Homo sapiens: one gene and its partners. The protein of the gene in region 2 interacts with the protein of the main gene of each other region in a pairwise test. Each region holds a gene or a part of one and is shown on either strand. Other genes may lie near its edges.

Evidence for each region.
Region 1: the proteins of SRSF4 (region 2) and SRRM4 interact in a two-hybrid assay, tested with the Homo sapiens proteins (one large-scale study listed by BioGRID).
Region 3: the proteins of SRSF4 (region 2) and HTATSF1 interact in a two-hybrid assay, tested with the Homo sapiens proteins (one large-scale study listed by BioGRID and IntAct).

What each region holds. Positions count from the first base shown.
Region 1 is NC_000012.12:119,145,541-119,149,040, forward strand, and holds part of SRRM4 (serine/arginine repetitive matrix protein 4), read left to right. Parts: coding exon 1-145; intron 146-3,500. UniProt on the Homo sapiens protein: Splicing factor specifically required for neural cell differentiation.
Region 2 is NC_000001.11:29,150,901-29,154,400, forward strand, and holds part of SRSF4 (serine/arginine-rich splicing factor 4), read right to left. Parts: intron 1-3,500. UniProt on the Homo sapiens protein: Plays a role in alternative splice site selection during pre-mRNA splicing. Represses the splicing of MAPT/Tau exon 10.
Region 3 is NC_000023.11:136,504,092-136,507,591, forward strand, and holds part of HTATSF1 (17S U2 SnRNP complex component HTATSF1), read left to right. Parts: intron 1-272; coding exon 273-372; intron 373-3,500. UniProt on the Homo sapiens protein: Component of the 17S U2 SnRNP complex of the spliceosome, a large ribonucleoprotein complex that removes introns from transcribed pre-mRNAs.

The DNA of each region.
Region 1 (3,500 bases), on a different chromosome or scaffold from region 2:
GCCCCAGTGGGGGCTTGAGCAAGAGCCGGGAGCTCAACAGTGGCAACACCTCTGATTCAGGGAACTCCTTCACCACCTCCTCACCCCAGAACAAGGGGGCCATGTTGGAGAATCTCTCCCCCACCAGCAGGGGCAGAGAGTCAAGGTCAGTGCACCACACAGGGTCGGGGGTAGACGGTCTCCCACCTTAGCTCCACCTTCTCATGCTCTCATCCCAGCCTCCCCCACTCCACCCCCAAGATTATTTTATTTGTAAGAGAGATGAAACTCAACTCAGACTGGCTTGTTTTAAAACACTAGTGGCACTAGCTTCAGGTACAGCTGGATTCAGGGGTTCAAAAATATGTTGCTGGAAATCCGTCTTTCTCATTACATCTCTTATTCTGCTTCCTCATCCTACTGGCCTTATTCTCAAGCAGATCCTCCCAAAGCATTGTCAAATATGCCAAGCAGCTAACATTCTATTGGTTTAGCCAGCCAACAGGAAAACAATGCTTCTTTCTCAAAGATTTCAGCCAAACACCAAGGCAGGTGCTTATTGGTTCTGTTTGGCCCAGCTTAGGTCATCTGCCCATCACTGTCCCAGGGGATGCTATGCTGTTGGCCAGAATGTGTCAGATGCCATCACTAGGGCTAATGAGTCGAACCTTCCCACACTCCTCTACAGGAAAAGCCAGGTTATTGGTATCAGGAGAGATGGAGGCTAGGCAGGCAAAAAAACAGATGACAATTTTACCAGTAATCTTAGAAGGAAGTCGAACATTGACCAGGCGTGGTGGCTCACACCTGTAATCCCAGCACTTTGGGAGGCCGAGGCGGGTGGATCACCTGAGGTCAGGAGTTCGAGACCGGCGTGACCAACATGGAGAAACCCTGTCTCTACTAGAAATACAAAATTAGCCGGGTGTGGTGGTACATGCCTGTAATCCCAGCTACTCGGGAGGCTGAGGCAGGAAAATTGCTTGAACCCTGGAGGCGGAGGTGGCAGTGAGCTGAGATTGTACCATTGCACTCCAGCCTGGGCAACAAGAGTGAAACTCCATCTCAAAAGAAAAAAAAAATGAAAGAAAGTCTAACATTAAATTAATTGTAAGTCATTTAAGAACATATCACAGGCCAGGTGCGGTGGCTCACGCCTGTAATCCCAGCACTTTGGGAGGCCGAGGCGGGTGGATCACGAGGTCAGGAGATCGAGACCATCCTGGCTAACACAGTGAAACCCCGTCTCTACTAAAAATACAAAAATTTAGCCAGGCATAGTGGCGGGCGCCTGTAGTCCCAGCTACTTGGGAGGCTGAGGCAGGAGAATGGCATAAACCTGGGAGGTGGAGCTTGCAGTGAGCCGAGATTGCGCCAGTGCACTCCAGCCTGGGTGACAGAGCCAGACTCCATCTCAAAAAAAAAAAAGAACATATCACAGTATTTACCCAAATGAATTGAAAACTTATCTCTACATAAAAACCTGCACTTGGATGTTACAACAGCTTTATTTGTAATTGCTAAAACTTGGAAGCAACCAGAATATCCTTCAGTACGTGAATGAATACATAAATTATGATACGTCCAGACAATGGAATGCTATTCAGTGCTCGGAAGGTATGAGGTACCACGCTATGAAAAGACATGGAGGAAATGTAAATGCATATTACTAAGTGAAAGAAGCCAATGTGAAAAGGTCACACACTGCATGGCTCCAACTGTATGACATTCTGGAAAAGGCAAAACTATGGAGAAAGTACAAAGATAAGTGGTTGCCAGAGGGTGAGGGGACAGAGGGATGAATAGGCAGAGCACAGAGGATTTTTAGGGCAATGGAACTACTCTGTGTGACACTACAATGGTGGATAACTGTCATTATACATTTGTCCAAATCCATAGAATGTATAACACCAAGAGGGTACTCTGATGTAAACTATAGACTCTGGGTGATAATGATGTGTCAATGGAGGTTCATCGATTGTAGCAAATGGACCACGTTGGTGGAGGATGCTGATAGTGGGGAATAAGGCTGTGCGTGTGTAGCAGCAAGAAGTATATGGGAGCTCCCTGTGCTTTCCATTCAATCATGCTATGAAACTAAAACTGCTCTAAAAAATAAAGTTTATTAATTATAGATACAGATATACCATAGTATAATTTATCAACATATCAGAGAACATTGAGATTTCTCCATTTTTTTACCCATCTTAACACACTCACTAGATGCAGTTTTCCTGCAGAAAACTCTTCCACACAGATGCATATGAGCCAGTTGTAATTCTACTTCGTCATCCGCTTAACTCTCTCACTCAAGAAATCACAACAAAATGCTAATCACTGAGGTTACTGTCATCATAATAGCTACTAAAATTTACTGATCACTTAGTCTGTACCATTCATTCTGTTGTTTATTCCTCAACTTGTTTATCAGGCAAGTCCTCTCTGCCAGACACTCAGCCTGGTGCTGGGGATTTAAAAATGGAACAGTCCTTTTTCTCAGGAGCTTATAATTAATGAGGCAGATGCACAGTTGCGGGATGGGTGGAAAAGCTTTGCTGGTGCCCTCTGTCATGCTAACAGTGAGGTTTTTCTACTTCTGAGGGTGGGAGTTTGCCTTTGTTCCATATAGCCAAAATTTTCAAAAGATGACTAACGCCTTAGCACTGAAGCAGCTAACAGCTTCTTCAAAGACAGAGCACTCTTTGTCCCTAACACATACCCCATTTCAGTCCTGGACAAACAGCTTGACATCCACATGCAGAACTGCCTTCCCATTTGCCTGCCCCAGGTCATCCCTGGCCTCAGCTCACACCCAAGCTTGACTGAGAACCTGAGCTGGGCCAGAGCCAATGTCAGTGTCTCCAAGAACAGGCAGTGAAGTTCCCAGAAGGGAGGAGGAGGACACATGTTTACTGATATACAGCAGTGCTATTATGCAGGAAAAATTGAAATAGCAATAACAACAACAATAATAACGGCAGTTCATATTCGTTGAGCCCAAATCACATGCTAGGTACACTGCCAAATGCTTTCCAGAAATAATCTTCCCGAGCTCCTCAAAACCTTTATAGGACAGTACTATTTGTAACCCTTTTTTACCTGATGGGGAAACTGAGGCTCAGAGTGGTTGAGAAACTCAGTTAATAAGTGGCAGCACCAGAATTCAAATACAAATATGTCCCCCAAACAGGAACTAAAGCCTGAGAGACATCTAGCAGTTACCTGTTTAATTTGATCTCCATGGACAGCCAAATTAAGTAATTTAGACCCAGCCTTTCACTTTGAAATATAAATGATGGTTGAGTCCATGACTGTTTATGTCATGCCACTTATGAGCAGAGAGGGCTCAATAAATATGGGCTGAGTGGAAGAGACATCAGCTCTAAATCAAAGGAACCATAGACACTGAAGGTAGGGAGCTGGTGAGGTGGGAGGGGTGGGGACTCTGGAGCTGCACAGATCAAGGTTTGGGGCTCTGGGTGGTTTTGAGGAAATAACAAACCCTTCTGAGACTTCTCTGT
Region 2 (3,500 bases):
ATCTCTCCCCTTGTTCAACAACCAGCCTTTCTGTGTATACTTTTCCCCTTTACGATCTATTCAACTCACTGTGACGAGAGCTGTTTTAAAGAGACCGACAATCCAAGCTTTACAAAATTTTTTTAATGCATCCAGACTGTAGATTCTTATTTTCTACCAACCAGGACTCCTTGGGAAAATGACTGACTCCAGGCGTAAAGCAGGAAGTAGTACACAAAGATGGGCCTAGACCATCTCATTATGACAGAAAGAGGGAAACTTTCAAAGCTGCCCAGGCACCATCACCTATGAAGTATTCTTGCTAAAAATGTTTAACCTGCATCTCAATCACACCTCTCCAGACCTAACTTCCAGTATATAGGAAGTTCAGGGGATAAGATACAAGTTCAATGATACTAAGAAGAAACAGATAAATACAGAATGTGAGTATTAAAAAACTAAGAAAAATAAGCCAGGAGTGGTGGCTCACGCCTGTAATCCTAGCTACTTGGGAGGCTGAGGCAGTAGGATAGCTTGAACCTGGGACGCAGAGGCTGCAATGAGCTGAGATGGTGCCACTGCACTCCAGCCTGGGCGACAGAGCAAGAGTCCGTCTCAAACAAACAAAAAAACCCAAACCTAAGCAAAATAAATGTCATGAAGGAACTGCTCCACACTAAAAGCCTGACTACATTAGGTTTTACCTAAAAACCCCTTGTACTACATGACTGGATTAGATCCCGGTTAAGAAAAAACCCAGCTATAAAGACATCCATGGAGTAACTGGGGAAACATGAATATGGCCTGGGCATTTAGTAATTAGATGGAATTACTATTAATGTTCTTAGGTGAAAAAACAGAACTGTGGTTATCCTCATTCTTGGAGACACATGCTGAAGTATTTAGGGGCAAAGTATCATAATTTCTACAACTTACTTTCAAATGCTACAACAAAATAAATGTACAGTGTGCTTGTATAAATACATACATACAAAGAGAGAAAAGGCAAAATGCTATCTGTTAAAGCCAGAGGAGGGTATACAGGTGTTCATTAACTATTCTTTCAACTTTTGTTTGAAGAAACCAATTGCAAAAATACCTATTTGAGACAACTAGGGCAGGGTGCAGTGGCTCACGTCTGTAATCTCAGCACTTTGGGAGGCTGAGGTGGGAGGACCGCTTGAACCCAGGAGTTCAAGACCAGCCTGGGTAACATAGCAAGACTCCATTTCTACAACAAACAAACAACTGAAAAATTGGAATACAACCTAGATATTACATCATAGTATGGAATTATTGCTAATTTTGCTAGCTATGTTATCATGGTTTCTTTTAAAATACTACAGATACATACTGAAGCAGTTGCAGATGGAATGATAGATGTCTAGACTTGCCTTACAACAATGCAGCAGGAGCGGGTGATGTGAAACAAGACTGGCAAAATAAAAACTACAGAAGCTGGAGGAGTGGGAGGTGCAATTCAGAGTTCTCCAATGCTTCATATATAAATTTCAAATTTTCCATAATAAAAAGTCAAAAGACCTAAATAACAAAACCTGAAAAGTCTCCAGTGACTTCTCACTACTCTTCCATTCTTGCTCTGGCCTAATGGTCAGTATATCTGGTCCTTCTCTGCCTTATCTCAAGCCACTCTCCTCCCGTTACCTCTCTATATTAGCTTCTCTACTCTGGAAAACTTTCTCCTGCCCCCAGGCCTTCAGAAACACCCTTTTCTGTTAGATAGATAGGCATTTTCTCGACGGGCACGGTGGCTCAAGACTGTAATCCAAGCACTTTGGAAGGCCGAGGTGGGTGGGTCACCTGAGGTCAGGAGTTCGAGACCAGTCTGCCCAACATGGTGAAACTCTGTCTCTACTAAAATTACAAAAATTAGCCAGGCATGGTGGTGTGCACCTGTGATCCCAGCTACTCAGGAGGCTGAGGCAGGAGAATCGCTTGAACCCGGGAGGTGGAAGTTGCAGTAAGCCGAGATTGTGCCACTACACTCCAGCCTGGGTGACAGAGTGAAAGAAACTCCGTCTCAAAAAAAAAAAAAGAAAGAAAGAAAGGCATTTTCTTCTGCTCACCATCTCTCTGCCTTATTCATTAGGGCTCAGTTCTACAGCATGTCCTTAGGGAAGCTGTTGCCAGCTCTCTAGACTAGTTGTGCTGTGTGCATTTTCTTGTCACAATAGCACGGTTTATTCAATACTCATCTTCTACGCTAGACTGAGTTTCAGGGGGGCAAGGACCATATTTGTCTTTTTTTTGAGACAGAGTCTCTTTCTGTCGCCCAGGCTGGAGTATAGTGGAGTGATCTCTGCTCACTGCAACCCCTGCCTCCTGGGTTCCGGTTTAAGCGATTCTCCTGCCTCAGCCTCCCTAGTAGCTGGGACCACAGGCGTGTGCCATCATGCCTGGCTAATTTTTTTTTACTTTTGTATTTTTAGTAGAGATGGGGTTTCATCACGTTGGCCAGGCTGGTCTTGAACTCCTGACCTCAGGTGATCCACTCGCCTCAGCCTCCCAAAGTGCTGGGATTACAGGTGTAAGCCACCGCGTCTGGCCATTTGTCTTCTTTACAAAGCCTTTCCAATGCTTAGCCCAGTGCCTGGCCTGTTCAGGTGCTAAGTAAGACAAAATTGCCATGTGTGCCATCAACCAAGGTAGTAGGATCTAGGGGTCCCAAGAAGAAATGTGAAAGGTGGCCTCTGATTTCCATTTTTTTTTTTTTTTTTGAGACGGTGTTTTGCTCTTGTTGCCCAGGCTAGAGTGCAACGGTGCGCTTGGCTCACCACAACCTCCGCCTCCCAGGTTCAAGCAATTCTCCTGCCTCAGCCTCCCGAGTAGCTGGGATTACAGGCATGCACCACCAACGCCTAGCTAATTTTTTTGTATTTTTTCAGTAGAGACGGGGTTTCTCCATATTGAGGCTGGTCTCGAACTCCTGACCTCAGGTGATCTGCCCGCCTTGGCCTCCCAAAGTGCTGGGATTACAGGCGTGAGCCACTGTGCCCGGCCTCTGATTTCCCTTTTTGAGATGGAGTCTCCCTGTCGCCCAGGCTGGAGTGGAATAGTGCGATCTCGGCTCACTGCAACCTCTGCCTCCTGGGTTCAAGCGATTCCCATGCCTCAGCCTCCTGGGTAGCTGGGACTACAGGTACGTGCGCCACCACACCATTTTTTTTTTTGAGATGGAGTTTCGCTCTTGTTGCCCAGGCTGGAGTGCAATGGCACAATCTCGGCTCACTGCAACCTCTGCCCCTACTGGGTTCAAGCAATTTTCAAGCAATTTTTCTGCCTCCGCCTCCCGAGTCACTGGGATTATAGGCACCCACCACGCCCAACTAAATTTTGTTATTTTTAGTAGAGACAAGATTTCGCCATGTTGGCCAGGCTGGTCTCGACTCCTGACATCAGGTGATCCACCCACCTCGGCCTCCCAAAGTGCTGGGATTACAGACATGCGCCACAGCGCCCAGCATTTTTGTATTTTTAGTACAGATGGGGTTTCACCATAT
Region 3 (3,500 bases), on a different chromosome or scaffold from region 2:
AACTCCTGGCCTCAAGTGATCCGCCCGCCTCGGCCTCCCAAAGTGCTGGGATTATAGGTATGAGCCACCGCACACGGCCCCCTGCCCATTATTTTTATTTCAGAAAGTTTTCTGACTGGAACTATGACTGAAATACAGTTTGTTGTTGTAAAATCCAGTAATTATCTTTATTAAATACTCAGTAAAGTATTGTATGAACAACTCATTCTTTTCTCTCTCCAACAAGTCTGAAGCAAAATTTACAGTTTGTTGTTACTGCTTCATTGCCTCAGGCAGTTGGATTGGAGACCTGAGAGGCGAGCCGGACCATCCCGGATGCGCCATGAGCGAGTTGTCATCATCAAGAATATGTTTCATCCTATGGATTTTGAGGTAGGAAGTGGTGTGCTTACTGATAGAAATGCTGATAGGCTTTTTTTCTCTCAAGGGAGCCTGGAGCTTGCCTCGCCTCATCTTTGTCTTGTCACCTCCTACGTGTTTGTGCAGCGAGTAGTAAAGGAAGATGGAGCCAAGAAGCTACTTAAGTCTTTTGATTTCCCTTCCCTTTGTTTAGCCCAGTATTGTTTTAAAGTGTATCACAGATAAGACTGTTTAATAACCATACTGCGCCCCAAGCAGCAGCTACTTGGTATGGGAAACCATTGAAAAATATCATCATCAAAAGATTTATGGGAACTGCTTGTGGATTTTCAGTGCAAGCCAACAAGTATGGCCTGATTTTGGTGGGGAGTACCAGCTTCACAATTGTAAATGCAAACTTCAGTTTGGTACTAAAAGTTATAATATTTAATGTCCGTGGAAAATTCCAAGAACAGCAAGTAAAAGTGAATAAGTACATCTGTTATGTATCAACTTTTTTAAGTGATTTTAAAAAAAGTTAATGGAACTGTCCTTCCTCCCCTCAAAAAAGTGAATAAAGGAGAAGCAAAGAACAAGGAGTTCTGAGGAATATTGTCATCAAAGTACCTTGTGTTACATTCTGCCTGTATTCTTATCTCTGTCTACTGGTGTAGACTGACTTTATTGTTGTGGAGAAACAACTCTTTATTCTCTCCCTGGTTCTGAAATTAGTGATAGCAAGTTATACAGAAAGCAGGTTATACAGATAGCAAGTTATACAGAGAAAAATGTTCATAACGTAAAATTCCGTTTTTACCAATAATCTAGTTGTAAATTAGTGCCCATTCCTGACCCTTTTGTGCATTTAAACAGTCAAAATGGTAATATAATTGTAGCTCCCTTAGAGAGGGCCCCAAAATGGACAGTTCAGCTCTATCTCAATGAATAGTGTTGTGATAAGGTTTACTGTGTACCTATGGAGTTTGGGCATCTTTTGAGGTCATTGGAAATATACGTCTGGTTTATTTATGAGATTGATTGATATCTCTTCTGACTAGAAATCTGGAAGAATTTTGAAATATAACAGTTTACAGTTTTACAGTTGCAGTGATAATGAAGTATGGTTTATAAACACGTGCACACCAGATGCATTTTGAAATACTGTTTTTGCCAGCAATAACTTTAAAATGAATGCATAGAATTACAAAAATATTAGCTGGGCATGGTGGCGCATACCTGTAATCCCAGCTACTCAGGAGGCTGATTCAGGAGAATCACCTGAACCCGGTAGGCAGAGGTTATGGTAAGATCGCGCCACTGCACTCCAGCCTGGGCAACGGAGCGAGACTCCATCTCAAAACAAAACAAAATAAAACAAAACAAAGAACCAGATCATAGTCATTAAAGCAGCATATAAAATAAATGCACAGATTGATCACAATATTTAGTCTGCTAAATACAACTCCGGGATTTCCTATTATTTATTACATTTTATCCCCCTGCTAAATAAGTGATTTATTAGGTGACATATTTATTTCTGTGACTCGAGGTCTTTGATTCACACATTTCATACTCCTGCCACCCAAGTGTGAATGTAAATGCAAACCTAATTCAAACTATCTGGAACCTCTGCAAGTAGAAGTCTGTTGTGTAATTTTAATCTATTCTTGTTTCTACCTCCTGCCTTGCTCATTGAAATACCTTATTTGAGTCTAAGGATCACCCCAGGCAGACTTAGCTCTTCCCAGCTTAACAAATATTCTTTCCCCAAAACCACATTTATTCTACCTTGACCCCTATACATTCCCTCCAGTGAATATTTTTAAAGATAGAAGTTTCATGCTTGCAAATTCCTGATTTTTTTTTTAATCTTCTTGGTTTAGTATAAACATTACTTTGGAGTTACAGAGCCTTTATACTACCCTATTTTGTTTCCTTCATAGCATTTATTATTATCTGAAGTAATTTTGACTCGTCTACTAGAATGTGAGCTCCATGACACCCAGTATTTTGTCTACCTTGTTTGCTGCTGTATTCTCAGTACATAGAATTTGCCTGGCACACAGTTGGCCCTTAATATTTATGTGATGAAGAATTGAAAGAATTGCTAAATGAAACCCTTGTTATTTACAAGCCAGAGTCTTTTCATTCAGCCAGTGGATAAAACATTTTCTCTTCAGCATCTTTGCAAATGAAAGCAAATTTTCTTCTTAGATGCTTATTCCACAAAGGATGGTGGGACATTGTCTTGGCCGTGGCGGAATTAGTTCACAAAGAAATGCTTGGTGATGCTATCCTTGTTTGCCCACCTTCCTGGCCTCACATGGTCCAACTAGCTTGCTGAGAGCGTGTCAACAAGAAGAGTGACAAATAATCTTGCTTTTGTTCACTGTCTCTGAGCACCTGAACCTCAGTGTAGACCTGTGCTGTCAGATATGGTAGACTGTAGCCATGTGTGGTTAAATGTAAGTTAATTAAAATGAAATAAAATTCAGTTCATCGCTTCTACTAGGCACATGTAGCTAGTAGCTACCATATTGGATAATGCAGATATACAACATTTTCATTATCACAGAACCTTCTATTGGACAACACTGGTATAGACATTATATAACTTTTGATAGAAGTGTCCAACAGGAAAACCTGCTTTTATTGCATGTTTTGGGGGAGTGTTTGATTTGACTCAAGACTCCATATGAACCTAAAGAACACACAGCAGCATTGAGCTTTTTAGTGGAAAACAAAAACTGAATTGTCAGGTTATCCTGAGATATCTGAAAGGAGTCAGATTTTGGGTGGAGGGGTATATTTTGATTCCAAACAGTTAGAAGCAACATACCTAAGAATACTGTCTGATCTGAAGGCTAACATTTTTAATGTAACTTCAGAGGGTCTTCAGTATTTAATTCAAATCCTTACTTTAAAATGCATTGCCTGGCAAATTTGAATACCAGGACATGAAGAGTCAAAACTCAAATGCATTAGCCGGGCATGATAGCACGCACCTGTAATCCCAGCTACTTGGAAGGCTGAGGCACGAGGATCACTTGAATCCGGGAGGCAGAGGCTGCAGTGAGCCAAGATCGCGCCACTGCACTCCAGCCTGGGCAACAGAGTAAGACTCTGTCTTCAAAAAAAAAAAAGAAAGAAAGCAAAGCACT